4 linked regions of the Homo sapiens genome follow. The protein of the gene in region 2 purifies or fractionates together with the protein of the main gene of each other region. This does not show direct contact. Each region holds a gene or a part of one and is shown on either strand. Other genes may lie near its edges.

Region 1 (8,041 bases), on a different chromosome or scaffold from region 2:
TCTACATCCTGTTACTAGTTCCCATCATACTACAGTTATAAATTAGTTTCATATATCCTTCAGAGTCTGGTATACCACTGCTGCTTTCTCAACTAAGATATCACATAGGTGATTATGCTTTTATTTAGGGTTTCACATAGGTGTTAAGAAAATTTCTAGCTGGTAGAATTGGAGGAAATGTTAGAGATAACATGGCCTAATGCCTCCTAAATGTATAGAAATGAGAATGTGCCATTACCAGTGATACTTTCTGGCACCTTACTTGTGCATTCTGGAACCTTACTTGTGCAGTCTGTGGAAATATAAAATCCTAAGGCATGGTCCCTAACATTGATTTAGAGGCAAGTGTACCTGCATGAAATACTGTGTAAAACATGGAAGAACATAAAGTGATAAACTGAAGTAGATGTGTAGGTATATATCAATTTTTGTTATGCTACTTTCAAGGAAATTTAGCAACATTTCACCTTTATTCTTTTACACATCTAAATAACAAGTATGTTTTTTGTTTGTTTGTTTGTTTGTTTGTTTGTTTTGGTCTTTAACTTTGTAGGCTAACATCCAGTCAATCATGGCATCTGAAAAACAAGTCAACATCCTGATGAAATTGCTAGATGAGGCTCTAAAGGAGGTAGATCAGATTGAATTGAAACTGAGCAGTTATGAGGAAATGCTCCAAAGTGTAAAAGAACAAATGGATCAGATCTCTGAAAGCAACCACCTAATTCATCTTAGTAACACTAATAATGTAAAACTCCTATCTGAGATAGAGTTCCTTGTGGTAAGTATGATCATAAATTACCAACAAAAAAAAACTAGTGATGATATATAAAACCCATTTGTAAACATTTTTTAATTTCCTTGTGAGAACAGGATTTAAAATAATTCCAAAGACCTAATGATAGGACTGAATAGCATCTTGCCTGTAAATTTCCCAAAATTACACATGCAAATGGTGTGTTTGCATATATTCTAGAACCACATGGACTTGGCCAAAGGTCATATAAAGGCCCTTCAGGAAGGAGATCTTGCTTCTTCCAGAGGCATTGAGGCCTGCACCAATGCTGCTGATGCCCTTCTGCAGTGCATGAATGTAGCTCTTCGACCAGGTATGTTCATTAGAAATGACAAAAATGTGACCAAGAATGTGAGACTAAGCCTGTAACTTGTTATAAAGGTTTTGACAAGAAATACATGAGACAAGTGGTTTAAGGGTTACATTATTAGCTATTCAAGTTTCACTGATTTCCCAACTTATTTCTATTGATACTAGGAACTTTTTTACTTCAGTTCCTCCTTCTAATTGTCCTCAATGACTATAGTCAACACCATGATCTTTATTTAGTACTATCCACAGAACCCAGCAGAAAGTAGGTGCTTTGGTTAGACGAGAGCAATTATTTCAAAACTTGAGTGTCCGTCAGAATCCCTAGAGGTCTTGTTAAAAACATAGATTGCCTGGCCCCAGTCCCAGATTCAGCAGATCTGGGCTGAGATTTTAGAATCCACATTTCTAACAGTTCCCAGGCGATGGTGAGGCAAGACCACACTTTGAGAACTACTGTGAAATCCCATTTTTCTCCTGCTTAACTTTTATCATGTAAATGAATACACCCATAAAACTTTTGGGTTCTTCAAAACGTTAGATACGTTTAATGTTCCATTAAACATCAAGGAAATCTTTTTACCCATTAAACTGGTCACAAAATGTCGTTCTGTGTCAGGCCATGACTTGCTTCTGGCAGTCAAACAGCAACAGCAGCGATTCAGTGATTTGCGAGAGCTTTTTGCCCGGAGACTGGCCAGTCACCTCAACAATGTTTTTGTTCAACAGGTAATTTTATTTTATTATTAAAACGAGCATGTTCCTATAGCTTATTTATGTATTAACCTTACATTTCCACAAAAATGTTAATATGTTTAATTGGGGTTGCAGTCAATTCCTTCACATATTTGATTTTAAGATTTTGAAATAGGAGCCTCTTTGCTCATAGATGTACTTTGGGCCTCAGCTGCCTCTTTTGGTAGACAGTCTAGTTCCTTTCAGCTGATGCTCTCTGATTCTAGAAATCAAATAACTATGCATATGAATTGCATATACTACTTAGATATTTTTATTTATAAAGTAAGTCCAAACTTGTTAGATATTTACTATTGGACCTGTTTTATTTTTCAGTATTTTGAGGTGAGACTCAGGACTTGATTCAGTGTTTTAAATGTTTTGTAAGTTCTATGTACTTAGTACATAGTATAATTGTTAAGAAAATGACTAGCTCAACTGCAAATTTCAGTTGATCTAATCTTCATATAAATGCTTTACCTATATTTTTATATGGAAAAGGATGTTATAATTAAGAGTGTGGTAATAATATTGTTATTAATAATATTAAGAGTACCTTTGAGGGATTTGAATAAAAGCCATTTTAATATCTAATACAATAAATTAGGTTTCTTATTTTTTCATCTCTTTTAAAAGTCCCTTTTATTTTATTAGAGTTATAGAATGAAAAAAAATTGGGGGAATATCTCGTTCATCAAGAAATACTGCCTGAAAACAATGGATTTTTACTTTATTTTCACTTTGCAATATTCTAAAACAATTGTATTTACTATATTTTATTTCCAATTAGTTTACTCAGGCCCTCCTTCAACTCTATAACAGGTCCTACTTTCTTTCGGTTCCTGTGAGTACATCAAATTTGGCTCAAGCTTCTCTGATTCTGTTTTTTTTTTTCTATAAAGTTTGCTAAACTTAACAGCAGCCGAATCTTTACAGATTATAACTTACTGATTTAAGCTACCTGTTAACCACATTCGTAGCAGTTTTTAAATGTCCCATAGTAGAGACTATTTTGGCCAAAAAAGCATTTAATCTCATTCTGCTTGCTTTTCTTTCTGTCATTTTTTCACTCCATTTAGTAATAAATAGTAATATTACTCCTTCATTTAGTAATAGTAGTAATATTAATCCTTCATTTATTTAGTATTGCCAGGTGATTGAGGTACATACCAGACATTAACTTGGGATAAATGAGAGACCAATCCTGTCCTCTAGTAGTTCACAGTCTAGGGAAGCGAGACAAACAAATAATATACTCAAGAGGGATAAATGTTATGACAGCGAGACTGTGGGAGTGTAAAGGAAGACCACCTAACTAAAAGCACGGTAGGGGGGAATCAGAGAGATTCCCTTAACATTCCACTTGACTGAAAAGTGTCGAGAAAAAAGTAAGCTTAAATGTCACATAGGAAATACTAATTCATGTTTTTGTTAGGTACTTACTTCAATAACATCTATTTCTATACAATTCCTTAGTTTTTAAAAATGACACTGTTGACAATTATGTTATCCACATTTGTTAGATAGTATTGAAAATACCAGCCAGTAAACAATAGTCTTTTCTGTACCCTTAACTGTTTGTTGTAACATGCAGTTATTTATGATTTTGCTTCTTGCCTTGTAAACTAATGGCCTCGTTTAAAATGAATGCTTCCCATTTCTGAAAAGCTGATATGTGTTATTACATGTGAGTGATGCATGTTAAAAATCAGAACGCTGCGACAACCTGGGGTGTGCCAAAAACGGTGGAAGAAGATATCCCACACATAAGAAAGATTTTCTTAGTGTTGCATTCAGTGCATCAGGTCACCTAGCAAAATTGTTGAGAAACATGGGTATTTCTATTCCTGGTAGGGAGACAAGCTGGGAAAATTGATTAAAATAATATGGTACACCTCTTTGGCAATCACAGAATTTTCATTGTATGCTTATTATGTACTCACTGTCTACCATATATAAGAATAAGCAATAGTTCCTACCCTCAAGATGCTTGTAAGAAGGAATTAAAACTAATGTACTTACTCTTTGTAAGGAGTTAAGACTAATGTACATTAGCAATGTATGTAATAAATTGCTAATTGTAGAACTGTGGACTGTAAGTGCTAAAAAGGTTTAATCAAAAGTGAGTTTATTGAGAATTTAAGGAGTGAGATATGGAAGGAATTGCAGATAAGGTAGGACTTGAACGAGTCCATGCAATACAGTTTATAGCAAATGTATAGTTACAACATTTACAAATATTGTACTGAAGAATCCAGTGAAAATAATCTATTCACAATATAACAGTAATTTCAAAGCATTGATTCTCAGTCTTTTTAAAATTCACAAATTAGTAAAATTAAAAGAAATAAAATTCGGAGACTGACCAAATCACCAATTTTTTTATTTTACCAAATAAAGACCTTTAAAAAGAAATACTATTATCCACTTTCATTATCTTTTCATTTTAAAAATGACATTTTGGCACTAAAAGAATAAGAATTTCCTTTCCGATTTTAAAAATTAATACATTTACCCTTATGAAGGACTCACTTCTTTCATTGTACTTTTTCTTATTGCTATAGGCCAGGAAAAACATCTTGCATTTGGGAATGACTGATCCAGAGCATGCTATCTGTAATGCAACTTTCCTATTAATACTTCTGTGTTATCTATACTTAAGTGAAACTTGAAGTGTATTTTAATATAATAATCACTGTAATATAATATGAGAGTAATGTTACATAAAGAGTAGTTAGCTTCTTTTAGATCTTTCAGATCTTACACACTCAACTTCCCCTGAAATTATAGGCTCTTGCCCATAATTTTTACATTTACTAGGGATTTCTGTATCTAGAAAGATCAAGAATGAGAATCTGGTCAGTTTACACTAATTAGGATTATGATATTGAAAACAGTCAAATTAAGGCTAATGAAATTGAGGAAATATTTGCATAAAGAATATGTCCTTTAAAAAATTGTTTTGGTTGTTTTTTGAAAGATTTATTTTGATAACTACTCTCTGCCTTTTGTTTCCCCCTTTGGTTCTACAGAGACCTCATGATTCTATCTACTTTTGCCTTTAGCAACATGATGAGACTGATTATGTACATAACTTAGAGAAAATGAAAATAAACTGAAATGCACTGAACTAAAAGTACAACCAGGAAAAAACTGAAGTTGTGGAACTTTTTACCATATGCTTAAGTTTAGAAATTTTTCTCTCAACATACATATACAGAAACAAGCTATAATAAAATAAAACCTGTATTGCAGACCACCAGCATTCAATTTCTTTTACAAAAATTGTTTCCTTAAGCATATTTGTAAACACGGATTGATGATCTCTGGTTAAAAGCTTAGAAAGACTTGTGATTAAGATCTATTTTTGTGAGGTTTGTTGGAACTTTGCTCAGATTTTTTTTTTAAGAAAAGAATAAGTAAGTATGCCATAACAGAAAGAAGGAGTTCCAAATCTTGAAAATTTATTCAAATTTTGACCCCAATGTATCATTTCTTTAAAAAAGTCACTATAGCAAAGTGCTTAAGAGTGCAGACACTAGAGCCAAACTTCCTGGGTTCAAAATCCTGACTCTCCTACCTCCTAGCTGGGTTACCTTGAACAAGTTAATTGACATTTGTGCCTGAGTAAACAGTAGTAGAAGAACATAGACAATAATTTTGAGTCTTGAATCATTGAGAAAAATTAATGAGGAAGATTGTTTTGGATAACGATACATTGTTACTAATAAAAACTATTTGGTAAACATTTGTATGATATAAGTCTGTCAAATATTCTTCCCCTTTAATCAGCGTGACCAATTAAGGCACATAGTTTAGGCCAGGCGCAGTGGCTCACACCTGTAATTCCAGCACTTTGGGAGGCTGAAGTGGGCCAATAACTTGAGCCCAGGAGTTTGGGGGCAACCTGGGCAGCATAGTAAGACTCCATCTCTATTAATAAAAATAAATTTTTAAAAAATAAAACACAATTTGGAGACATTTATAGACCTAAAACTATAATATCTATATCTGGCTAGTATCTAATACATGTGATGCTGTAGAATCCTGATTATCCTTCTGGCATCTTGGTTAGAAAACATTTCTGTAATAGAATGTTTATATTGACCTTTGGCAACATAGAAATAGATAATAGTCCAATGGTAATGCCTGTGTATTTTACTTAATATTATTGATTTTGTTCATCTTTATTGTTAGCCCTTACAGAAAAGATATGGTAGCCCAGGCATTCTAAAAATACAGAATTGTTCCATTCTTCAACACTTTAGCTCTTAGTCCTCATTGATTCTTTTGGAAGATGTGATTGTTTTATATTCAGGTAGCCACCCAGAAAAGAATATCCACATAGGTCTACGCTCCGTTATCCAGAATTCTGGGGGTCAGGAGTGTTTTTAGAATGTTTCAGATTTTAGAAAAGCAATACAGTATATATACTGTATATTATATAATCACTCCAAGCACATGTTTTTGCAACAAAAAATATGAATAGTCACTCTAAGCACTATAAATAGGCCCATGTCAGTTCAGGTCACATTTTACCATCAAAATTGTTTTGGTGCCAAGCTTAGTCTGAGTTTTCAGAGCTTTTTGGCTGTCAGAATTACAGAAAGGGATTATGGACCTATTAATATACCTTGTGTATAACATCTGTGGTAGCTGTGAACTTCTGTTGCCCCTGTGTTCTAGTTCTTGTTATTTTGAACTGGTCAGTTTCATTTTGTGATATTTTTCTGCCATCTCTAGTTCAGTTTCCCAAGTTAACCTAAGTAGATATCAGTAAGATGAATCTGAGAAGTGTATTGGTTGTTTTCTACCATTTTATATGTAATTTCTGTATAATGGGTCCTTTTTTCTTTTTAATTTCCATTTTAAATTGGGATATATTCTCACATGAAGAAAATTTTCCAACAGACTGATTTGAAAACATTTATGAAGAAGGGACATGGATAATGATGTGGGTTTTTGTACTTGGCATGTCTTATACTCCCATCTTTCTTTCTCAGTTACCAAGGAACTCCTCATTTCCTCTAGGCCAGAAATGTTTCCTTCTGAATAGTCTGTATTTAAAAGAAAATTTTTTAAAATTCATAACCACTAGGTTATTTTGTGTATATAGTACAGTATATAAATTAGGTGAAAGAAATCCCTTTTAACTTAAAAGAATTTAAATTCAGGACGCTTATTTAGCTAATGTGTACCAACTAGTATGATACACATTCATAATTAGCTTTAGGTAACCTTATCAGGAAATGAGTTAACTAGCTCCAAAACTCTAGCAGTCTGTGTAATTTTAATACAGTTTTCACAAAATGCTGACAAATAACTTCTGGCTATCTAGGCAAATTAGATTGAGTGAAAATTACATCAAATAAATCTGTCTTGGTTTGCCTTTTGCTTGTTGTTGGGAAATTGTATTTTCAATTTGAATCTGCTCCAAGACAGAAGTAAGACTCAGATGACCAAGGTTCCAATTCCAAGCTCTAAGACTTTATATTCTACTTTTTTTTATCTGTTGTTTTAAATATTACAAACTCTAATGGGAATACCATAAATGTAGACTGTTTTGAATGATTTCTCTATTTGTGTTTCTTAATTCAAGCTATATCAAGAAGGTCATTTGCTTGGTAAATTGTGAAATATGGTATGAGAGAGACAAGCTTCATTAAAACGTTCCATCTTCATTCCTTTAAAAGACGGAATGGGTAGTTGATTTATCAGAGTGCCATTCTTGCGTATTTATGATTATCTTATGGTGGTAATGTTCATTTGATATACACAGGATATAAAAGTTGTGTAAGTATTTGGTTTTTATTTTTCTGTGTTCTATTCTTAATTATTTTTCTATGTCTTATTGGTTTGGCTTGGCCACATTTTGGTCATTGTTTAGACTTTTTATTGTAACGTTTCTTTGTACTGTTGATTACATTTATTTACTTATTTTACTCACTTTAGGGTCATGATCAGAGTTCGACTCTTGCCCAACACTCTGTTGAACTGACTTTACCCAATCATCATCCATTTCATAGAGATTTGCTCCGATATGCCAAGCTGATGGAGTGGCTAAAGAGTACAGATTATGGAAAATATGAAGGACTAACAAAGGTATGGATTTGACGTCATTTACTCACTGAGAATAGAGCATTATCTTTTAGAATTAAGAGGTCATGTGTTCAGTTCCCCAAGTTTAAAATACTGTAGTAC
Region 2 (8,122 bases):
TAGCCGGGCGTGGTGGCTGGCACCTGTAATCCCAGTTACTCGGGAGAGAACTGCTTGAACCTTGGAGGTGGAGGCTGCAGTGAGCCGAGACTGCACCACCGCACTCCAGCCTGGGCGACAGAGCGAGACTCTGTCTCAAAAAAAAAAAAAAAAAAAAAAAAATTAGCTGGGCGTGGTGGCACGTGCCTGTAGTCCCAGCTACACAGAAGGCTGAGGCAGGGGAATCACTTGAACTTGGAGGGCGGAGGTTGCAGTGAGCCGAGATCGCGCCACTGCACTCCAGCCTGGTGACAGAGCAAGACTGTGTCTCAGAAAAAAAAAAAAAGGAAAAAAAAGAAAAACATGCCATTTACAACATTAAGCTTAATACGACAAGTATTTGCATGTGGATCATTCACTTATTAATTGAGCCTCTACTATATGCAAGGCACTGGGCTGGGCAGTGAACAATACAGGCATCGTCCCTGTGCCTGATGTAGGAGCAGTTCCTGGAAATGGAGACAGACTCAGTGATTTGTTCACCACCATGATATGTGCTTCCAAGGATGAGTGAGCACTGCTCCCAAGGACAACGAAAGGTGCTTGCCTTAAAAGCGCAGGATCCAGAGGGTTCACTAAAATGGGTCTGGAACCAAGAATCCAACCCAAAGACATGTTCCTGTTTCCCTCTCTACAAAAGCAGGAAACATATTTCAGTTGGTTTACATCCACCAAACATGCAGAAAACCCTGATACACAATCAGGTTTTTTTTTAATGATTAGGAAAAAGAACATTTATGTGTCTGGTTTTTATTTTTATTTTATCAAAGAGGAGGCTAAAATGCTGGGCTCTCTGGCTTACTAGCAAATGCCTGATAACCCTAGTCGCCAATGCTAATGTTGATTGAGCTCTAGGCTAAACATAATACATATATTATCTTCTTTAATCCTCACATAATTTGGTGAGCTAGGGATTCTTATTGTCCTTAATTCACACTTGAAGAACGTGAGCCTTAGTCAAGTTAAGTAACTCCCTGAGGCCTGACATCTAGTAAGAGATGAGTTGGAATTTGAATTCAAGTAGTTAAATGCCAGACCAGAGCAGTTGCACTCTACAACCTCATTCTGAGGGAGGCGCTTTCCCAAGACAGGTCATTAGTCTGTAGATAAAAGGCGCAAAGTTAAGTTCCTAATGACTAAGAGTTTATTTACAAGTCAAATCCTTACTTTGCCAATTACTTTTATACTGGACACAAAATGCATCTCCTGTCCTGCTGGTCTTCCTGGTGTATCTTTCTTCTTCCAGGAGTCCTGAAAAGAGATTTTGGATTGATCTCTGGAAGTCAATATCCACTGCCAAAAAATAATTCCACATGCATCTGCAATCTGCCTGTCTGTGCCCTGCTACTCCGCAACCTTCTCAGTGCAGACGTTAAATCATTCACTCCTTGGGGCTGGGCGTGGTGGCTCATGCCTGTAATCCCAGCACTTCAGAAGGCCAAGTCAGGGCAATCACTTTAGGGAAGGAGTGTGAGACCAGCCTGGCCAACATGGTGAAAGCCCATCTCTACTATAAATACAAAAATTAGCTGGATGTGGTGACATGTACCTGTAATCCCAGCTACTCAGGAGACTGAGGCAGGAGAATCGCTTGAAAGCGGGAGGCAGAGGTTGCAGTGAGCCAAGATCGCACCACTGCACTCCAGCCTGGGCAACAGAGAGAGACTCCATCTCAAAAAAAAAAAAAAAAAAAAATCATTTATCCCTTGGATAGGCTTCCCCCACCCCACATTGACATATTTGATATATCTATGTCCATGATTAAAATGTACAGTTAGGGCCGGGGACGGTGGCTCACGCCTGTAATCCCAACACTTTAGGAGGCCGAGGCGGGCAGATCACCTGAGGTCGGGAGTTTGAGACCAGCCTGACCAACATGGAGAAACCCAGTCTCTACTAAAAATACAAAATTAGCTGGGCGTGGTGGCACGTGCCTGTAATCCCAGCTACTCCGGAGGCTGAGGCAGGAGAATCACTTGAACCCAGGAGGCGGAGGTTGCAGTGAGCCAAGATCACGCCATTGTTACCCAGCCTGGGTAACAAAAGCGAAACTCTGTCTCGAAAAAACCAACCAAACAAACAAAACAAATGTGCAATTAGTTATTTAGGACATTTAGCTTTGAATTCTTAGCTAAAACCTCCAGGTACTCACGGAACTGTCAGAAGTCTCAGAGGGAACCAGCAAAAACTGTTTCAGAAGGAGAAGTGGTAAATGGACTTCCTTCCATGTTCACTTGAATTTCGGGGAAGATACTGCTGCTTATGTTGAAGTAATCTCTATGGGCAGGTGTTGAAACAGGGCTGGCCTGAGGAGTGCCTAAGCAGGGCTGGTTTCCCAGAGCAGGGGCACTTGGAGCCAGCTTTGGAATAAAAGGTATCAGGACTGGTGAAGAAAAGGGGTAGAGTTCTAGGGAAGGAATGATCAGGAAAGTAATTCCCCAGCTGGAGACATTGGTCAAATAGGAAACTGGCCTGTGCCACATGCCCTGCTCTCCTCATTTTGCTCATTATCATAGTTCACCGCAGCCTCGAACTCCTGGGCTCAAGCAATCCTCCTGCCTCAGCCTCCCAAAGCTCTGGGATTATAGGTGTGAGCCACTGTGCTCGACCTAAGAAGTTCTTGAGAGGGGAAAATAACCTTTTGAAAATTGAAACTGAAACATAAAAAAAAGAAGACAAATTTTATCCCCTCCCACAAAAAGAATGAAAAGCTAGGTCTCTCTGCAGGAAATGGAAGACTGTCTTAGCTCAATGGATGTGTATAGCTGGAATCCATTGCTCTGAAGATTCCAGATTAATAGGAAGGAGGGCATTAGCAATGTTTTATAGGGCCCTTCCTAAGTTTGGTAGGCAGTGGGTCCCACTGATGCTCACATTCTAATCCCTGGAACCTGTGCATATGTTATTTTTACATGACAAAGGGGGTATTGCATATGTGATTAAGGTTAAGGACCCTGAGATGGAAGATTATCCTGGATTAAATGGTTGGGTCCACTCTAATCATATGGGTCCTTAAAAACTGAGCATCTTTTCCAGCCTAAGTCAGAGTCAGAGGAAGATGTGACCACAGAAGAATGGTCAGAGAGATGTAATGCTGCTAGCTTTGAAGATGGAGGAAGGGGGCCACAAGCCAAGGTATGTGGGTGGCCTCTAGAAGCTGGAAAAGGCAAAGAAACAAATTCTCCCGCAGAGTCTCTAGCAAGGAACACAGACATGCTGACACCTTGATTTTTAGCCCAGTGAGACCTGTGACAGACTTCTAACGTACAGAACTGTAAGATAATATGTCTGAGTCATTTTAAGCTACTCAATTTGTGGTGATTTGTTAAAGCAACAATGGAAAACTCATACACCATGGGACAGCAATATGAGGCAGACACTGCCATTGTCATTTACAGTCATTTAACTGACATATAAAAGAACTAGGTTCTTGCCCAATGTCACACAGCTGTCAAGTGATATTAATCCAAGAATTAATGTCTTCGGACACTGGTCTTCAGAGCTCATGCTCTAACTATTGCACAATACCACCTCCCAGGATGTTTGTGGGGAGGAGGCTGGAGGTAGGTTTCAAGTAAAAGCTCACTAAGGGTGAGTGAGTTACACAGCTGGATAAAGAGCTTGGTTGACTCAAAGGGAAGCTTTTCAAAGCCCTGGATTAATGTAGAGCAGAAAGTAGTTGTTCCTCAGGCTAGGTTTCCATTCTGTTCCTGTTTAGTCTTCCTTCCTCCCTGCTTTGATCATGACAAACTGGTTTACTCAGTGTCCCACAAACATGTCATTAAGCACGACTTTTTTCTACACTGATACCTTTGTCCAAGCCTCCCTGCCTCTCTCTCCCACCTCCCTGCTGCTAACCCCCTTTCAAGAGCTCTCACCCCTTCTCAACCCAGCTACTCTGACCTGGGGGCACCTGAGTTCACGGACTTTGGTATGAATTACACATCGCCCTGGGCCTTTTTTTTTTTTTTTTTTTTTGGTATCTCTGCCATCAAGTGTCTTAACTTCTCATCATTTAATTTTTTATGTCGCTTATAATTTATTTCCAAGTTGACTGGCCGCTGTGGACTTCTTGCAGGCGGGGACATGAATCCACCTGGAGCGGTCTTCATGGTCAACTGGGATCTTTATTCGTTCCTAAAATAAATCTTACTATCACATGCAATTTTGCTTTTCGTGAGTGCATGTTTTCCTTTCTCTGACTCCCCACGACCCAGAGTACATCAGGCCCTTGTTAAATGTCCCCGTGGCTCTTATTACAGATTCAGGGTGATGATCTGAGTGTCCACCTTGCTGATTACTACGGTACCCCCGCGTGTGGCACAGGGTGTGGCACACACAGAAGACAAGGAGATATGTTAAAGCCCAAAGGCCAGGCACAAGACGCCCAGGAGGGACTAGTCGCGAGAGAGGGCAGGAGGCCAGCTGGGTACCCGGCCGCCGCCCGTAGCCCCAGCTCACAGCCCCCGCTCACTCCTGCAGGTGCGGGGGCGGGAACCGGGTCGCGCGCCTTCTGCCCGGCGTTCCGCGCGCCCCCGCGCCGCCGGCCCGAGCGCCCCGCCCCCGCCCCGCCCCTTCGCGCTCGCGCCACTTGGAGCTCGCCCCCGTCGTTCCCGCGGCGCCGCGCCTCGCTGGCTCCTCAGCTTCCAGCCAAAATGGCGGAGAACAGCGAGAGTCTGGGCACCGTCCCCGAGCACGAGCGGATCTTGCAGGAGATCGAGAGCACCGACACCGCCTGTGTGGGGCCCACCCTCCGGTAAAGATCTCATCCCACCGGGACTTCGGCCCCCCGCCCCACGCCGGCCGCTCCTCACGAGCCGGGCGGGGCGTCCGCCGCCGGCCGCGCGCGAAGCTCCCCGACAGGTGGTGCGCGCGGGGGCGGGCGGGGGCGCTCGCGGGTGGCGGAACTCTAGCCGGTACCCGGGCGGGACCGAGAAGGCGGCTGCACCTGTCGGCGCGGCCTGCCTCCACCGCTGTAGCTGTCACCCCGCAGCCGGTGGGTGTGGCTGCTGCAGGGTCTCTAACCCCGGGCCCCGCGCTGCGGCCCCGCGTTCTCCTCCTGGCTGCGGCCCCCGGGCCCGAGGACACTTCTGGGGCCTGCCCCCGTCTCGCTCGTGGTGGGGCTGAGGGCTGCTCGGCCGCGGGCATGCCAGGCTAGGGTCGACAGCAGGCACCCGGCGTGACGGAGGTGCCAGGTCGCGCGCGGGTGGAAAGCCTGGCGCGCCGGGCTGCCGCGGGCGTGGGAGAATTGAAATTGAGCGGGAGACGCCGGCCCGCTTTCCCCCTACTCCCCCGCGCGGCCGCAGTGGGCGAGAAGAGAGCGTGGGCTGGAGAAGAGAGCGTGGGCTGGAGGAGAGCAGCTGCTTGCTGCTTGGGAACACGCTAGGGTGACCCTGCGCTCGCGGGATCTAAGCTGCTTTGGAGGCAGAACAGCTTTTACTTATTTACAAACATTTCATTAAAATTGCATTAATTTTTCCGTTTAAATCGAGTTCCTCCCCATTCATTTTAAGAATAGTACTAGGTAATGCATATTCCATGCCAAACTGAGTACCTGCTGTTCCAATAGAATATTATTAGCCAGGCAACGTAATGAGCCATGGGTTAGGTTAGGCACTGTCTTCAAGAATAAGTTCCTTTTACATATAAGGTTTCATCTTTTGGAGTGATAATAATGATAAATGAAGTTATTATTCACTTAGGGAACTTGAGACTGATTATGCTTTATCATTAGTATTCTTCAGAATACACTTCCTAGAATAGAGCGCTGTACAGTTTGTGGACCTGTGAATATAGTGTAAATTGAAGCCAGTTCAAGTTATGTAAATACACCTTGCCCTTAAGAGTCAGGAGGCCTGGGTTCTTGTTTTGCCCTAATTCTGCCTCTGATGAAATGTGCAGTCATGGAAAAAAATTATTTAACCTCTCTGGATCTCGGTTTCCTTATTTGTAGAATGGGGAGGGGAGAGTATTCAGATGCCCAGGAAACTCAGAACATTAGGGACCTTGCCTATTTGTTCACTACTGTATCCCTAACACCAAGCATGTGGTAGGCATGTTATAAATTTTTGTCACATAAGGTTTCTGCTATGATATGATAATGCATAATTAGTGCATTTCCTTAATTTTCCAACATTATTATTTCTTTTAATAAACTGTATACTTGGTAATGAAAGAAGTAAGATTAAAAGGAAGCTTTGTTTTCATCACTGCATCTTGAAACTGAGAGTGCAGTGTGTGATAAAGTTACTAGAGTAGTTTATTTGTGAAAATAGTACTGGTTATGAAGGAGGTGCTTCATCTTAGGAAAATGTGCTAGGTAGTGTCCTTGAAAAAAGATGAAATTAACTTAGAAGAAAAATTTGAAATATATTGAGAGATTTTTGGGACACTCAGGAACAGAATATGTGTATTCATAGTGTTATTCTGTTCTTTTTTGCTGGGCAGTTGTTTCAACTGGCTCATTTTGTTTGAACCCACTCTCTTTTCTTTAGCAATCCCTGGTGACTCATACTTATCCCATATATATGTATATTTGTGTCTCATTTATAAGCAGACGCTTTTTGCACACATATAGAGGGTACTGCTAGCAGTCTTTTCTCTTGAACATTGTTTAAGCTACTACTATTTTTTCCCTTTTTTTTCAGGTTTCACGAAGTGAAGTGTTAATATTGCATTTTTAAAAACCATTTATTATGGAAAAATTTTAAATGTTTAAAAAAGTAAAATAGTGTAATGAACCACCATGAACTGTCATCTAGCTTCAATTCATTCCCTGGCCAGTCTTGTTTGATCTCTTCCCTTATCTACTCCCTATCATCTTGGATTATTTTGAAGGAAATCCAAGACATCAATTTATTCATAAATATTTTAGTATTAAGATTAATTTTTGTTGTTATTTCCTAATTATCTTTTAGCTGGCCTGTAGACTTATCATTTTATTTATATTGTTTTTTCTCAGCGGCGGGATTTTTCAGCCTGATCTTTTCCTGAGAAGCACGTGATAAACTTTCCGCAGGCCCTGACATATAACATGGTTCTTTGACCACAACAGAAGTATATTAGAAATCAGTAGTTAAAAAAAACAAAAAAACAAAAACTATCTGGAAAATTCCCAAATATTTGGTCATTGACTAACACACAAAAAATAAATCAAAAGAGAAATTAGAAAGTATTTTAAACTGAGTAAAATGAAAACACAGCATATCATTTGTGAATGCAGCTAAAGAAATAGTTAGAAGTTTATGGCACCAAACACCTCTACTAGAAAAGAATGGCTTCAGCTCCTAGCCTAAGAAACTAGGAAAAGAGGAGCAAATGAAATTCAGAAGAGTGGAAGAAAGGAGATGGTAAAGATCAGAGTGGTATTCAGTGAGACAGAAATACAGAAAGTCAGTGAAACTCAAAACTGGTTCTTTGAGGAGACTGTAAAATTGATAAACCTTTAGGGGTAGAAAAGGAGACGATACAAATTAAAAATAACAGGGCCAGGCGCGGTGGCTCACGCCTGTAATCCTAGCACTTTGGGAGGCCGAGGCAGGCAGATCACTTGAGGTCAGGAGTTTGAGACCAGCCTGGCCAACATGGTGAAACCCCGTCCCTACTAAAAATACAAAAAAATATTAGCTGGGTGTGGTAGCACACGCTTGTAATCCCAGCTGCTCGAGAGGCTGAGGCAGGAGAATCGCTTGAATCCGGGAGGCGGAGGTTGCAGTGAGCCGAGATTATGCCACTACTCTCTAGCCTGAGCGACGGAGCGAGACTCCATCTTAAAAAAACAAAAACAAAAACAAACAAAAAAAAAACAAAACCAACCAACTAACCAAACAAACAAAAAAACGGGAGTGAGAGAGGTTACGTGACTATAGATTCTACAGACATTAAAAAAAGGTTAAGAAATATTATGAATAGGCTGAGTGCAGTGGCTCATGCCTGTAATCCCAGCACTTTGGGAGGCTGAAGCAGGAGGATTGCTTGAGCTCAGGCATACAAGACCAGCCTGGGTAACATAATGAGACCTTGTCTCTACAAATACAAAAATTAGCTAAGTGTGGTGGTGTGTGCCTGTGGTCCCAGCTACTCG
Region 3 (8,041 bases), on a different chromosome or scaffold from region 2:
ATTAGTGAATTATAGGTATTTTAGAGAAACCCCTAAAATTCATTATTTCAAGCAATGTATCTTTAAAGCATAGTTGCTTTTATTCCTTTATGGTTTAACATTCTTACTAAATAGTTCTTTAAGTTGGAACAAAAGATGATTTGACTTTGTGCCTCCATTTTAAAGTCAGATTTGGCATTAGGTGATATATTTCTGGTATCTGAAAAAAAGCCGAAAGAAAACATTGCCATTGCTAAACCTTAGTGCTGAACATTATAGAAAGTTAAATAATGAGAAAAAGTGTGAAGTGTCTGCCGGGCATGGTGGCTCACACCTGTAATCCTAGCACTTTGGGAGGCCAAGGCAGGTGGATCACTTGAGGCCAGGAGTTCGAGACCAGCCTGACCAGCATGACGAAACTGTGTCTCTAAAAAAAATACAAAAACAAAACAACAACAAAAAAACTAGCCGAGCGTGGTGGTGCTCACCGGTAGTCCCAGCTGCTTGGGAGGCTGAGGCTGGAGAATTGCTTGAGCGTGGGAGATGGAGGTTGCATTGAGCCAAGATCACGCCACTGCATTCCAGCCTGGGCAACAGAGCAAGACCCTGTCTCAAAAAAAAAAAAGAAAACGTCAAGTGTCTGTGTCTGTGCCACATACATTCTGGTTTCTTTTCTCCATAAATATTAATTACATTGGTCTCTGTTTTGTGGAAATGGAAAATCTAAAGGAAGTAAGTTGGAAGGCTAGCTGACCAGTGTGGTGCCATGCTGGTATTCCCCCTGAGGTGTGTGCCTTACTCACTGCATCTTTCAGTGCCTCTCTGTTTGGTTATTACCTAAATTTTGTTTTACATGGTATGAGGGAGGTGACATCATGAGTTGACCTTCTGGGAGTGTAGGTTTACTGTAAGAGCAGAATGTAGTGTAGTGACAGTTTCATTAGGAAAGCACTAGGGCAGGAGGAACTACTATGCCAGCAGCTGACACACCGATGTAAAAGTGAGATGGTAATCCAGTAATGCCTGAGCACACTTCACTAGATTACCTGACTCTTGGTTATGCTTAAATAAAAAACCTACTTTAGTTCATTCTGTAATGCCATGTATAAGTGAACACTAGAAAAAGCACGTGAAGATTTGTCTCAGGAAGATGGGTGAATGTAGAATGTTTTTAGAAAATGATACATACGTTTATTAATACACTTTAAAATTCTATGTTAATAACTGAGACTTCAAATAATAGCAGTAGTTTCCCTTTTATTACCTCTGAAAGCATTTTAAGATTCTCGTAATCTAAGTAATCTGGAATTCCTGCAACATAGTTGTTGTGGTGTTCGTTTTCTAATTCTACGGATGTTTGAAGAAACTCAAATGTAGCCTAAAAGAAGTCTTAAATATTGGAGAAAAAAACAGGTAAGAGGAAAAGTCAATAGAGATAACAGTATATCTGCAAATAATATTGGGTATATTCAATAATGTCATTATTGAACAAGACTAGATTTAAAAAATGTAATCTACACGATTAAGGTCTTATTGTTCTTGTCTTTGAATTTTGTTATGCACATGCGTTTATTTTCAGGCTTGACCATTTGTGGACATAATTGCCTCCTGACGGCAGAATGGATGTCTGCAAGTAAAATAGTATGTCGAGTGGGACAAGCCAAAAATGACAAAGGAGACATTATTGTCACCACTAAGTCAGGTGGCAGAGGAACCTCAACAGTCTCTTTCAAGCTACTCAAACCTGAGAAAATAGGTAAAGTCTTTCATGGGTTTATTCTAAAGAAGAAAGTAAAAATGAGTTTGTCTTTTAAGCTGTAAAGCTGGTAGATTCGTGTAAAACCTACCTACTTGCATATCTCAACTTAGATTTAGTTTATGTTTATTTTGACAGGATTGGGATGTTGGTTAATATTTGTGTTACTTTCGGGAAGGCAGTGTGCTGAGGTAACAGTCAGTGAAGCCTAAGGATGACGGTCGTATGAGAACTACTCTTCTCAGTTCTTAAAATCTGTTCGTTCACTTGATATACCAGTTTTGGTTCCTTGATCTTGAATATAATGACATTGCTTTAAACTCTTAAACAAGGTTTGAGGTGAAAAATCCTGATTTGGCCAAATTAGTAATAATATATCTAAATAATATTCCCTTTTCCTTCATTTTATCCATCCTTCAAGGCCCAGATGATACATTTCCTAGCTTGGCTGCTTTTAACGCCCCTGTTAGTAATACTCACTCTTCTTTGAACCACATAGCACTTTGTTTTCCTTCTTTATGCGCTGACCACTTGCTGCCTTCCGTTAGCAGTGTTAGGAACTTGCTGCCTTACGTTAGCAGCGTTAGGAACTTGGTCTGAGAAGTCATGCTCTTTGAATTCTAACCTGGACTCTCTTACCATGACTGAGTATGTAACTTTAATACCTTCTTTATCCATGAGCAAAAGTGGAATATATTGGCTACCTCATAGGATTGGGTGAGTTAGAACATAAATGTAAAGTGCTTAGCATAGTCCCTTACCCAGCAAATTAATAATTTCTGATGATCTTTCTTGTAGCTATTTCTGTGCATGTCTCTTTCCCTTTTTAGAATAAGAGTAATGTCAGATTCATCTTTGTGGTCCTGTAATGTCTTGCACCTGGTCAGCATTTGATAAATATTTGTATAATGTAGGAATATCAGAGGCGTAATTAAACCCAGCCAGTACTTCTCTTTATAAAGAAAATAAATAATTTTGCAAATTGTTTTTTTAATCTTAGAGCATAGAGGCTTTCTGCAGCATTGTTCTCCACAAATTCCTAGATTATTTTTATAAATAAAAATTCAAGGAATTTCAGGGAAAATTCAGAGTGGACTTTATATATGTACATGTACGTGCATGTGTACATATATACATATATAACATTTCTATTTTTGTTTACTCTTTTTATTTAGTGTCTTCAAAAACTAAACTGAAACTAAAGCAGGAACTTGTTGTACAGTTTTCTAGAGGGACTTAAACATTTTGATAAAAATCTAATATCTTATGATCTATTTATATAGCAGATAAAGAAAACTTAGGCAAAAGTGGTAATTTTATTATTCTGGAATACTCATTCCAGGACCTAGCACATAGTAGGCTTAGTAAAGGTTTCTTTTTTTTTTTCTTTTTGTTTTGAGACAGAGTCTTGCTCTGTCGCCCATGCTGGAGTGCAATGGCGCGATCTCAATCTTGGCTTACTGCAACCTCCGCCTCCCAGGTTCAAGCAATTCTCCTGCCTCAGCCTCTGCAGTAGCCGGGATTACAGGTGCGTGCCACCATGCCCAGCTAATTTTTGTATTTTTAGTAGAGATGGGGTTTCACCATGTTGGTCAGGCTGGTCTCGAACTCCGGACCTTGTGATTCGCCCACCTCGGCCTCCCAAAGTGCTGGGATTACAGGTGTGAGCTACTGCACCCGGCCAGTAAAGCTTTCTTGAACTGAACTCAAGAGTGCCTGGACTTGAGCAGAAGCCCCTGTTGCATGCTGGCAGAACCACGAGTGCTGAGAGAATGAGTGGGTTCATAGAGGGCCTTGCAGCTACAGGTTGCCTGGTATTCAGACAGCCTTCTCCCATGAAGCCTTCTGATCCTCGCCTGGGGAGGCAGGCACGCTTTGTCTGTGCTCCCTGGCACTTGGCTCTTTTTCTGTTGCAGCCCAGGGCCTTGGAGGCCTAGCTGGTAAGCCCTGTGCTAGGTTGAATGATAACGGAGTTCAGTCCCATAAAGGAAGATGCTGTTTTTAGAGCTTATGTTGTCTTGTTCACAGGGTCCACACCCAGTCAGTTTTCCCTGAATAACCTGGTTATTTCCATTATACAAGCCATGCGTTCCTTGAAAGGTGTTTGATTTAATCGTTAGATATTTTATTGAATTTACCAAATTGATTTCAGCCTAATACGGAAAAAAATCCCTGCTGTTTCTACCATCTAGGACATTTCCAGCACTGATAACAGCAAAAAGAATGAGAAATAGCAAGTAGCATATTATTTTTGCATAACTATTCATGAAAACATGCCAGAGTTTGTAGAGGAAAAGAAAATAAAAGATATTTCTTGAGAGCTTTCAAGAACCATTTAAAAAACATTTGGTTTTCATTTGTAGTGAAATGTCCTTAGGTAGCTTATGGAACCCAGAAGCAGAAACTCACAGTATTAAATATAAAATCATATATGCATAATGGTTTTTCGGCATTTATCATAAACCAGAAGCTTTCCACTGAGCTAACATTTTACTCGAATGTTTTGTGCTTGGATATTTCCCAGACATTTTCCAAGAGTTTACATGATTTCAGAATATTCTCTTGAATAAACAGATATTATAGGTCATATTATTTCATCTTACTGACTTTCTGAATTTTTTGTGCAGATTTAATCAGCTACATTTAACAATGTTTAATTGTAGTGTTTATTATTTGTAAAATATGTTTGTTATTGCAAAACTTTGTCTAAGCAGCTTAATTTGTCTTCTCTGTTGAGTAATGTACAATGAAACCATAAGCTGAGAGGTGTAATTTTTGCCTTTTTATAAATTTTTTTAGTGCTTATAATTAAACTACTAGTCATTTTTTAAAAATTTAGCTGTTATGTCCTCAAATCTCTTAAAGATTATCCAACAGGCATTTTGTATTAGGTCTTTAAGAAGTCAGACAATAGGCCAGACGTAGAAGGTGCCTGGGGTAGGCTTCATCTTATTAAGCATATGCTCCTCATTTCTGTAGGCATTTTGGATCAGTCTGCTGTGTGGGTTGATGAAATGAATTATTATGATATGCGCACTGACAGGAACAAAGGAATTCCGCCCTTGTCCTTACGTCCTGCTAACCCGCTTGGCATTGAGATTGAAAAGTGAGTACCATCTTGCTTTCAGTCTTCTTTATTTTTCAGTTCCTGAAAAGTTTTATATACTTACAGGAAAGGGACTCAAACTCCAGAAACATCCCAGGAAACACAGTTGAAGACACCTCAGTTGTTTGGAGATGGGTGTTATTTATGAAGCCTTGTTAGCTATGCTGCAAGTAAACTTTGCAGTTAGTTAAAACTTGTGGCTAAAACTACTTTTACCTCTTCAGTTTTTTGATTTTGCATTTTGTGAAAAAGAAAAGTCTTTAGTATGTTGTCTAGAGATGGTTAAGTTTAAATAGGTAGATGGCACCTGAAGTCAAAATAGCATACATAATCTGTTTTTTTGATTTTTCTAGAAGTATTTTAGAATAGCCAGGTCTAATCTGGTCTTTAATTTTGTCTATAATGTCTACTCATTCTTGCTTAATCCAGACTTATTTAACTTTAATCATCAGAATTCTGCCAGGTAAATGATATCTTTCAAGATGCCTTATAACTGAATCTAGAGTTTTTTTCTGAATTCCTAGTACAGTGTTTTAGTAACTTTTATAATTAGTGCCTTTCTACTTAAACAATTCACCTAATGTGTTAATCGCAGCTAATTTATCTTCTGGCCTTAGTGCTTCTGCTTATGGAATTGTATACTGAGTATTGCTCTGTAAACTCTTACCAAAAGTGACAAATTAGCACTGTTAATACTTTAACCATGGTTTTAGTTTAGGGTTTTCTAGGAATGGGGAAAATTCTCCAATAATCTCTCTATATATAATCTTCAAGCCTACTCTTGAAGATCATTAGTTTCATTTTCACCTGCTGGGGTTTGCCCCTGGCTGAGGGGAAGTAGCATGTTTGTCTTGGGAAAGTAGCACGTGTTGAAAAAGTCTGGGGCTTAGCAGCTTCACGTGAGCTTTGACTGTTCTAGGTAACATCTTTGAAACATTTTTGCAGTATGGGTCATTCTAGAGCCGTTTAAGGATTCCAGTGCCTCCAAAATTAAGAGTTCAAAGATTGAGAAGGTTTAGAAAATAATGGTAACAGTTGGGTATTTATTTGAGCACAGTTTTAAGCATGAATAGACTTGCAGTTGATAGTAAGCCCCTTATGGGTGCTTCAAGGCTCTGGAAAGCCAGTCTCTTTCCAACCTGCCTGAGAAGTGTGGAGCAGGAGGCCCTCTGAGCTGCTCTTCATAACCAAGAGCCAGTTTTATACATGGGCAAAAGGAATATGGAGATATACAAAATATATTTAGTATGAGACTTGGACAAAATTATCAGTTAGGGTTCATTCAGACGTTTACTATCATAAACGTGATTTCTTCAACTTCTGTTTTGGTGTTTACCCCCACCCCTGTTCTCTCTACCTCCCCACACCTTCTCAGCCTTTGAATCTCTTTATTATTCCTGTTGCTGCTGCCCACAGTGTGGTTTGGCCTGAACTGCGTCTAACAGCAGTGTTCCTAATAAGTGTCAGGTTAATTATTTGATGAGATTGGTAATGGCAGTGAAGAATAATGGCACTGAAAGTACTTAGCTTTCTTAAAATGTTCTTTTCTTCTCTGAGAGGTAGTTTGATTTTGTGTGGGGCAAAACTCTCTCAATTTGAACTTGGGCTGTGCCACTTACTAGCAATATGACATTGAGTAAGTTACTTAGATTCCTTTTGCCTCAGTTTCCTCAGGTGTACAATGCAGTACCTGTTCCTTAGGGTCGATGCGAGGAATCAGGAAGTGAGGAGGTAAACAACTTGGAGCATAGCAAGTGCCTCACAAGTGTTCATCCTTACAGGATTCTTTGCTCTTCTTGGATATATACTATTCATTGTTCTGCCACATAGGAAAAGTTTTTGTTTAATGACTTAAGATTCCAGGGTACTAAAGTGTTTTAAAATTTTAAAATAACATTATGTACATTTATCCAATAAGTACTTCAGTGGGAATAAAATTAACAGATTTTGATGTTACTGTACAGATTGTTACTTAAGTTTCAGAAATATTTGCTCAGCCATGGGATAAAGTAAAATATTAAAGGATAATTTTTGAAAAAGGGAAAATCATGATTCTTATACAAATATAAAATAAATAGATGTCAGAGCTTTTATTTAACTCATAATTAAGGAAAGAACCAATAAGATGTTAAATCCAGCCCAAAGGAAAGTCCAGAGGGGAGACATACGCAATGAGAAATGCCGAAAGATGCAAGACCGTCACTCCGTCTCGGAGGAGCCAGTGGTATCCTCACCTGATGTGCATTTCTGTGGACAGGAATCCCTGGCATCGCCATTAGCCCTCCACAAGCCAGCTCTGTCTTTCTAATAGAGACTCAGAATAGCCAATGATCAGAGAAAGGCGCGGATCCTGTAGCATCAGGGAACACGGGGAGGGCCCTTTAGGCCGTGAACAGACATCCAGTCATCCTTCTGTCCGTCTGAAAGTGTTTGGCAAAAGACTTTCAAAAGAAAGAGAGGCTAGATGTAGAGATTCCAGGAAGCAAGAAAATGAAAGATGAAAGTAAGAATAGGTGTAGAAACCAAGAGAAGATAATGCTTTTGGCCAGAAAAATGCTTTTCCAGGCTTCTTTTTTTTTTTTTTTTTTTTTGGATACTGTCAAGAAAGCTGTGTTTATCTTACTGAATTCTTTGACCTCTGTTAGATAAATCTTGTTTTAGAGAAAGATAAAAGGAAGGAAAGGCAGACTGTAGAATGTTGATGTGGGTTTTATTTTGCTGATTTACTTACTATTTTTCAGATGAAGGCTTTGGTAGAGGATGGTATTGTACTCAGGTCAGGATCCCTACTGTCTTTTAGTTCTGTTTATTAATGTCATTTGGGGCTTTTAAAAAAATAATTAAAAACCTAGAGAGCACCTACTTTTTGAAAATGTCAGTATTGAAGGAATAATAGGGTTTTAGTATTATTTGTTTGTGGAAACATACTTAAAAAAGTTTGCGGCCGGGCGTGGTGGCTCACGCCTGTAATCCCAGCACTTTGAGAGGCCGAGGCGGGCGGATCACTTGAGGTCAGGAGTTTGAGACCAGCCTGGCCAACGTGGTGAAACCCCGTCTCTACTAAAAATACAAAAAATTAGCTGGGCGTGGTGGCAGGCGCATGTAATCTCAGCTACTTGGGAGGCTGAGGCAGGAGAATCACTTGAACTCAGGAGGTGGAAGTTGCAGTGAGCAGAGGTCGGGTCACTGCACTTCAACCT
Region 4 (8,170 bases), on a different chromosome or scaffold from region 2:
GGAAGAAAAAAGTTTTCAATACCTAGACCAACTTGTTGAATTTTTAAAACTTATGCACTATAAATGCAACTTTCTCTACTGCTTTCTCAGTGCCTTTAGGAAGCTTTCAAATTTTTTTGTACTGTGGTTTGTATTAAATTTGCAATATTGATGTAAAATACATGACATGCTAGTACATGTTTAACAAAAATTTAAATGTTTGCGGAAGTCTGCGTGATTTTCCAAAGTCACTTTATTTCCTTTAAAGAGTGTGCTGGTTAATCTACATTCTAAGACAGCCTTTCACCACTAAATATAAGGCAGCAATAAAAATAAAAACTCTAGAGCCGCAAGCCTCGTGAAGGAGGAGAAAATGCCTGCCATCTCCCTGCTCCTGACCAGTGGCATCTAGAGAGGGCCTAGGCCCCCCTCCCCTGTCACTGAGGGTCAGGGCCCCTCCTGGGTGCTCTCAGGACGTCCCAGACCTGACCCGTCCTGTAAGAAGTGAGGAGGGTAGAGCTGAGGGCACTGTGGGTCCGGGGCCATGCGGGGTCCACCCTGCCTGGCACAGGGCCTGCACGACAAGCCCATGGGAAGGGGGAAGGGCCCAGGCAGATTACGGCCAGACCCCTCAATGCCATCGAAAAAAGTGCTGGGGTCTCCTTAAGCACAAACGGCAGTCCAAGGCCCAGGGAGCTGCGCTTTTGTTTCCTTTCAGGCATCTTTAGAGCCTGCGCAGCCCCTGCCAGGCCTCCTTCGCACCCTGCAGCCCATCAGCAAACCCGTCCTGGTCACTCGTGTAAGACTCCCGTGTCCTCCCCCAGGACCAGGCCAGCCCTCCCATCTGTGGCCCCACAACTTGACCCACCCTGCCCCCCATGCCCTCTCCTCTGTGGCCTCAGGCAGATGGAGTTCCCGCATTTTCACTCCTCACCCCCAGTCTGGCTTCTGCTGAGTGTGCCTGTGTGGAGTTGGAACGCATACAATTCTTTTTTCTTTTCTTTTCTTTTTTTTTCCTGAGATGGAGTCTCACTCTGCTGCCTAGGCTGGAGTGCAGTGGTGCAGTCTCGGCTCACTGCAGCCTCCACTTCTCAGGTTTAAGTGATTCTCCCACCTCAGCCTCCAGAGTAGCTGGGACTACAGGCATCCACCACCACGCCCAGCTAATTTTTGTATTTTTAGTAGAGACTGGGTTTCACCTTGTTGGCCTGGCTGGTCTAAAACTCCTGGCCTCACATGATCAGCCTACCTCGGCCTCCCAAAATGCTGGAATTACAGATGTGAGCCACCACGCCCAGCTGGACGCACACAATTTCATCTCACCAGGCGCTGCCCAGCGTCCTCCAGAGGGGCTGCACCCACTTGGCCTCCCTTCTACCAGCCACACCTCCTGGGCTCCCATCCTCACCCCACACTGGCACCTGTGTGGACAGACTTTTTCAGTCTTGGGCTTCTGAAGGGATGAAACGGCAGCTGTTTTATGTGCATTTTGTTTATTCATTCGGCATATTTTTAGTCCTTGTTGAGTATCAGGCCCTGCACCAGTGCTGGGGACGCATTCAGGAGAAAACGATGCAGACATCAGTGCTGTCCCAGAGCTGGCGTCTGAACATGTGTGATGTGCGGTGTGTGCGTGTGCAGGGGGAAGGGGTGCAGGCAGCTGAACGTGACCATGAGAACCCCGTAAACTCTGCGGGGCATGGAGGGGACCGGTGCTTTGCAGGTGCACAGAGCTGGGGCTGGGGGTGGCCCAGGTCTTTGGGGGCAGTTTTATGCAGGACGTATGGACGGCTGGAGCTGAATAGCGAGTGGGGGAGGCTGCATGGCCGCAGTGAGGTCTGGCTGACAATAGAGCAGGGCCTGGGTCATGGCTCATGGTCTGGTCAGGTCAACGGACACCCTAGTCATGGCTCAGAGGCTTCAGCAGGGCCCCGTGGGGAGGGTGTGGGGACAAGGTCTCCCTGAAGGCCGAGGGAAGCAGCTTATTCCCCGGAGCCAGTGGCTCTTGTCCTTTACCCGTTTCTTGCTGCACTTGTTTGCCCTTTTAGATCAATTTGCAGGAGTTCTGTTTTTATTCTGGATAGCAATTTTCTTGTCAGTTACAGATGCTGACAATGTTTTCCCTCAGTCTGTGGCTTGGCTTTTCACTTAAGGATTTAAAAATTATATCCCACAAGAGTTTAAGATTTTAATATAGCAACTTTTCTATTTTATTCTTTATGGCTTATGCATTTTGCATCTTAGGAAAATAACTATCTTTGACAGTGGCTTTTGACCAAAAACCCATGTTGTTTGATATTCATATCCCCACACCAGCTTCTCGGGCCTGGCTGACCCACGTGTGAAAAGCCTCCAGTTCTAATCGTTGTTTCTTGATGCTTTAGATGTTCGCCTATGAATGTTTCACTGTTTCTAATCCACTTACTTGTGTTCTCATTACTGATACATTTCAACACAGGGTCCTCATCTTCTCCTTGCCTGCAGTCTCTGTGCTGTTGCCTGCATTTTCTCTCTTCCTGTTTCTATTTCTGTAGTGGCTAACCTTAATGTGGGCATTTAACAAGGTCTAAGCAGGAGCTAAGCACGGTCTCTATTCTCCCAGAGCAGGGTCAGGACTGTGGGTGCTTCAGTGCCCTCCCCTCCCTCCCCCTCGAGTTTGCTCCTGTCAAGGTGGAGGAGGATCCCTCTAGCAATGACCCTGGGTTGGCTTCCGCCGAGGGCTGAGTTTAGGAACAGTCTCCAGGCTGTTGCTGTTTTCCTAGTCCACGCTTTCACTGAGGATGCATCCCTTGCACATCTGTGCTTCACATGGGAGTCGCCGTCCACCTCCCACCTGCTGGGAGCCTTAGCTTCATCATCTGTCCTGCTTCAGTGTAAAACCCAACCCCTGGGCCGCAGAACTCGCACCCTACCCACCCACCTGCCTGCTGTAGGACGGCAAGCATCTCTGCTTCTGATTCACGTCCTCTCCCCTTCCCACATTTGTCCCTGGTCACGTCCTTGCCTGTTCGTGAATCCACTTGTGCAATCGACATGATGCTTGCACTCAGCAGTGCTCCTGGGTGTTCGCAGAACATGGTCTGCCAAAAACAGAAGTCAAGAAACTTTTTTTTTTGAGACAGATTCTCCCTCTGTCACCCAGGCTGGAGTGTAGTGGTGCCATCTCAGTTCACTGCAACCTCCTCCTCCCGGGTTGAAGCCATTCTCCTGCCTCAGCCTCCCAGGGAGCTGAGATTACAGGCATGCACCACCATGCCTGGCTAATTTTTGTGGGGTTTTTTTTGGTAGAGATGGGGTTCCTACCAAAAAGACCATGTTGCCCAGGCTGGTCTCAAACTCCTGGGCTCAAGGGGTCTGCCCATCTCAGCCTCCCAAAGTGCTGGGATTACAGTTAGGAGCCACTGCGCCCAGCCAATAAATACCTTTTTTTTTTTTTTTTTTTTTTTTTTTTTTTTGAGACGGAGCCTCGCTCTGTTGCCCAGGCTGGAGTACAGTGGCGCGATCTTGGCTCACTGCAAGCTCCGCCTCCCGGGTTCACGCCATTCTCCTGCCTCAGCCTCCCGAGTAGCTGGGACTCCAGGGGCCCACCACCACACCTGCCTAGTTTTTTTGTATTTTTTTTAGTAGAGACGGGGTTTCACCATGTTAGCCAGGATGGTCTCGATCTCCTGACCTCATGATCTACCTGCCTCGCCTCCCAAAGTGCTGGGATTACAGGCGTGAGCCACGGCGCCCCGCCAAGAAAGACTTCTAATCAATGTTTTGTTAAGAAGTTACTAGACAGTCCTCCATCCAAATTCACTACCAGACACTGATATAATAGTATGAGTCTTTAGTTCATAATACTCAATGTTACTATATTTTTAAGAGTCCTAAAAGCTTTGGCAATTTTGGCAATTTTTTCTTCATTAGTTTCAAAATTTCTTTACAGTCATAATTTCTAACACAATTTTAACTTTTTTACTTTTTTTCATTGCTCAACTTGTTGCTAGATTTTCAGAAATTACAAGGAAAAACTGAAATAATAGAGCCGGGGTCAGTGTCAACATCAGCAGGGCACGGGGCAGGGCTCCCTGTCGGAGTGGCAGTGGGGGCTCCCGCAAGCTCCATCTCCTTCCTGTGTGCCCCTGCCCCATGCTGCTGCCACTTCCCTGGTCTCTGCTGGCTTCCCTGCCACCTTCCAGACCCTTCCTTTCGTGTGGCTAATTTTCAGGAGGGGCAGGGGCACAACCTAGCAGCTCCAACCTATGAAAGACTTTGTCAGTTGGTGTGTCAAAGCCAGCATCTTTTATCAAACAGACAAACCCTGAACGCTCGTGGTTTAGCACGTGCTTCTTCCTCCAGGCGAAGCCAAGTGCTGGCCATGGGCCTCTCCTCCAGGAAGCGACTCAGGACCGGCCCTCTGCAGCGCGGCCCAGTGACCCACATTCATTCTCCAAGACCTGCGCTGCTGGGCCTCTGAGGGGCCCCGGAAACATCCGGTGGCCACCCATCCCACTGGCATTGTTCCCACGAGGGTGCCAATGACTGCGCTCCTGGAGGGGCTGAGTTCGTCTTTGGGTCCAGGAGGTACCCAAAGCCGCTTGTCTGCTGGTGGCAGGTATGACAGACGTTTGATTCCCAACCTTCTCCGCTTTGGTTTCTTCGTTTACTGAATGCCCGGCGCCCACCTCAGTCCGCGGGAAACGAGGGACGCCCCTGCCACACTGCAGTGCGGACGACGAGGCCAACATAAAGACAGCAGGCATCAGCAGAGGATGGAGACAGCGGCTCTGGGGCTGTCTTCTCTCCGCAGGTTGGGAAGGGAAAGGAGAGAAAATGCACGCAGTCACGCTCGGCGGAGGCGTCCAGGACTGCGCCCGCCCTGGGGAAGGGCGCACGCGGTGGTCGCCAGGGGCAGCGAGAGGGCCTGAGTTGGGGGGGCTGGGACGGACAAGAAGCCCCCCACCTCGGCGGTTTCCCTGTCCTGCTGGGGAGCGGCCATGGGGCAGGTCCCCGAGCTGAAGTCGCTCGGCCGGGAGACGAGTACCCGCCCCGCGGGAGGGCCCGGACCCGTGCTTCCGGCGCCGTTGCCGGAAGCGGAAGTGCCCGCGCGCTGTCCACTTCCGGCCGGGACCCCGGAGGCGGAGGCAGCGAAGGCGGAGGGGGCGGCGGGGGCGGCGGCGGCGGCGGCGGCGGCGGCGGCGGCGGCGGCGGCGGCGGCGTAGCCGTAGAGGGTGAGTCGGTGGCAGGTCCTGACGGCCGGCGGGTCCTTGGGAGGTGGTCGCCGTCTTTCATCCTTGCTCTCCCTGTCTCTGGCTTCCGCGGGGGCGCGTAGGGGGAGGCCGGACCGGGACCTGGAGGGCGGGGAGGCCGTTCCGGACCCCGTGGAGTATCCCGCTCGTGCGAGTGTCCTCGGCGCAGGTGTCCTCCCCGGCACATGTGTCCCCCCCAGGCGTAGGTGTCCCCTTGGCACATGTGTCCCCACAGGCACAAGGTCCTTCCTGGTGCAGGTGTCCCCTTAACAGTGTCTTCCCCCACGCCCCAGGCGCTGGTGTCCTTCCTGGCACAGGTGTCCCCCCTCGGAGCAGGTGTCCCTCCTTGGGGCAGATGTCCCTCCAGGCACAAGTGTCCTTCCTGGCGCAGGTGTCCCCTCGGCGCAGGAGTTCTCCAAGGTGCAAGTGTCCCCTCAAGCACAGGTGTCCCTCCCAGGCACAAGTGTACTTCCTGGTGCAGGTGTCCTCTTGACGGTGTCCCCCCCCAGGCGCAGTTGTCCTTCCTGGCACAGGTGTCCCCCCTCGGACCAGGTGTCCCTCGTCGGAGCAGGTGTCCTTCTGGGCACAAGCGTCCTTCCTGGCCTTTAGGAAGCTTTCAAGGTGCAGGTGTCCTCCAAGGTGCAGGTGTCCTCCAGCGGAGTGTCCCCTCCGTGAGGTGCCTCCCAGCACAGGTGTTCCCCTCGGCGCAGGCGTCCCCCCGGTAAAGGGTCCCTCCTGGCAGAGGTGTCTGCCCGGCAGAGGTGTCTCCCTGGCGCAGGTGTCTCCGTGGGTGCTGATGTTCCCCGCAGTAGGGTGTCCCCCCGCTCGGCGGAGAGGCTCACAGCGGAGCCAGCGCCAGGGGAAGGCAGTCAGAAAGGCCCTGGTAGGGGCTGGACCTGGGTCTCTGTTTATGGTCTCTGAGTTCCTCTTTGGCTTCTGTGACCCAAAATCTTTAGTCTTCAGGCTGGGATGGAAGCCTCTGCGGTGCGTTTTTTAACTCCAGATTTTCCCCTTTTCCACATGAGTAGCTTTATTCTGACTCCAAGGCGAGCCCTGCTTCACAGCTCTCCACTCACATTGCCTTGGCTTCCACCCACAGCGTGACAGACTTCACTCCAGCCTTAAGATGGGCGCAGCCACCTCACCGCGTGCCCCAGCAGAGCGGCTGGGGGTCCACTTCTTGGGTTATTATCCAGCCCTATAATCAAAATCATACAGGCTTTAATGTCAATGGAAATGCTGATGATAATGTCCAAACAAAATAAGAAAACAAAAGTGTGCACCTACAAAGTCATATAAGCAGTGGAATCTTAGCTTTAAAAGAAACTCAAAGGGAAAAAACTGGAAGGAAACAAGCCCTGTTGGAGGGAGTTGCCCCTGAGTGTCGGGATTTAAGGGGAGTTGTCCCTGGGTGGCGGGATTTAAGGGGAGTTGCCCCTGAGTGGTGGGATATAGCGGGGGTTACCCCTGAGTGGTGGGATTTACGGGAAGTTGTCCCTGGATTGTGAGATTTAAGGGAAGTTGCCCCTGGGTAGCAAGATTTAAGAGGAGTTGCCCATAGATGATGGGATTTAAGGGGAGTTGCCTCTGGCATCTTTGTATTTTTGTCCTGTCCAGATTTTCTACGTTGGTATGCCAAATTTCATAATCAGAAAATAAAGAGAAAGGAAAGGTTGCAATGTAGGTCCAGATGAAAAAGGAGAAGAGAGGTGTCTGAAAGCATGTGGGCATGGAGAATGAAAAATTCCAGGAGAAGGTGAATCTTTTTAATATTCATGAAGATGAAAATCAGACAGCTGAAGTCAAGGGGAACAGGTGTATCGGATTCCCTCATTGACTGATGCTCACCAAGCAGCTGTGTTAGCTCCCCGAGGAGGACGATGGTGGAGGGAGCATGGAAGGCAGGCTTGCCTGGCATCTGAGCACCTGTGGTCTGCACGGGGCCTGCATAAAGGAGGGAAGCATGATGTTTTCTAGGACAGTTAAAAAAGGGGGAAATGGGGTTTTGGATACCCAAGACAATAATGACTTTTTCTTTTTTTTTCTTTTTTTTTTTTTTGAGACGGAGTCTCGCTCTGTCGCCCAGGCTGGAGTGCAGTGGCGCGATCTCGGCTGACTGCAAGCTCCGCCTCCGGGGTTCACGCCAGTCTCCTGCCTCAGCCTCCCGAGTAGCTGGGACTACAGGCACCCACCAACATGCCCAGCTAATTTTTTTGTGTGTATTTTTAGTAGATACAGGGTTTCACCATGTTAGCCAGGATGGTCTCGATCTCCTGACCTCGTGATCCACCCGCCTCGGCCTGCCAAAGTGCTGGGATTACAGGCGTGAGCCACCGGGCCTGGCTGACTATTGTCACTTTTATAGGGTGGGAATTGTGGGGCTTGTGCTGGGCCTCCAGCTGTGGTACCTGGTCGGGGGAGTTGTCCACGCTGTATTTGTCTTCACTGAGGGTCCTGGTGCAGCTGCCCACAGGCCTGGCCAAGGTGCTGGGGGAAAGCTCCCGAAATGAGAAACCAGCCCTGTCTTGGGGAGAGATGTGCCTTTGAGGCTGACATCTACATGCTGGGTGGTCTGGGACCCACATCTAGAATCTTCGCAATGTCCATGTCTCTCATGCCTGTGAAACGCCCCTGCTCTCCCCTTAAAGGTATAACTTCTGCATGTTTGTGTTACGAAGGTTTGTTTATCTTATCAAGGAGTTCCTCATCCTAGTTCAGCTTTCTTTGAGGTTTCCTGGATTAATGATCTCAGAGGCTCTGCTTGTAGCTCCACTGTGATCACCTGATAGTTTGGGGGAGGTTTTGTACCTAACATTTCTACCGTCCTAACAACTCCTGCAGTGCACAGAGAACACCCCTAGCATGAACAGTGTGAGGATTCCACCAGCTTTTTCACCATGAAGGAGACAGACCGGGAGGCCGTTGCGACAGCAGTGCAAAGGGTTGCTGGGATGCTC

What was found.
Region 1: the proteins of EXOC6 (region 2) and EXOC1 purify together in Homo sapiens (affinity purification with mass spectrometry; 5 studies listed by BioGRID and IntAct, with this or other methods). This does not show direct contact.
Region 3: the proteins of EXOC6 (region 2) and EXOC2 purify together in Homo sapiens (affinity purification with mass spectrometry; 6 studies listed by BioGRID and IntAct, with this or other methods). This does not show direct contact.
Region 4: the proteins of EXOC6 (region 2) and EXOC3 purify together in Homo sapiens (affinity purification with mass spectrometry; 7 studies listed by BioGRID and IntAct, with this or other methods). This does not show direct contact.

The regions. Positions count from the first base shown.
Region 1 is NC_000004.12:55,870,125-55,878,165, forward strand, and holds part of EXOC1 (exocyst complex component 1), read left to right. Parts: intron 1-553; coding exon 554-781; intron 782-976; coding exon 977-1,109; intron 1,110-1,724; coding exon 1,725-1,834; intron 1,835-2,630; coding exon of another isoform or gene 2,631-2,684; intron 2,685-7,792; coding exon 7,793-7,942; intron 7,943-8,041.
Region 2 is NC_000010.11:92,843,840-92,851,961, forward strand, and holds the start of EXOC6 (exocyst complex component 6), read left to right. Parts: upstream 1-4,680; 5' UTR 4,681-4,694; coding exon 4,695-4,795; intron 4,796-8,122. UniProt on the Homo sapiens protein: Component of the exocyst complex involved in the docking of exocytic vesicles with fusion sites on the plasma membrane.
Region 3 is NC_000006.12:626,635-634,675, reverse strand, and holds part of EXOC2 (exocyst complex component 2), read left to right. Parts: intron 1-1,558; coding exon 1,559-1,735; intron 1,736-4,714; coding exon 4,715-4,841; intron 4,842-8,041. UniProt on the Homo sapiens protein: Component of the exocyst complex involved in the docking of exocytic vesicles with fusion sites on the plasma membrane.
Region 4 is NC_000005.10:438,096-446,265, forward strand, and holds the start of EXOC3 (exocyst complex component 3), read left to right. Parts: upstream 1-5,080; 5' UTR 5,081-5,195; intron 5,196-8,054; 5' UTR 8,055-8,110; coding exon 8,111-8,170. UniProt on the Homo sapiens protein: Component of the exocyst complex involved in the docking of exocytic vesicles with fusion sites on the plasma membrane.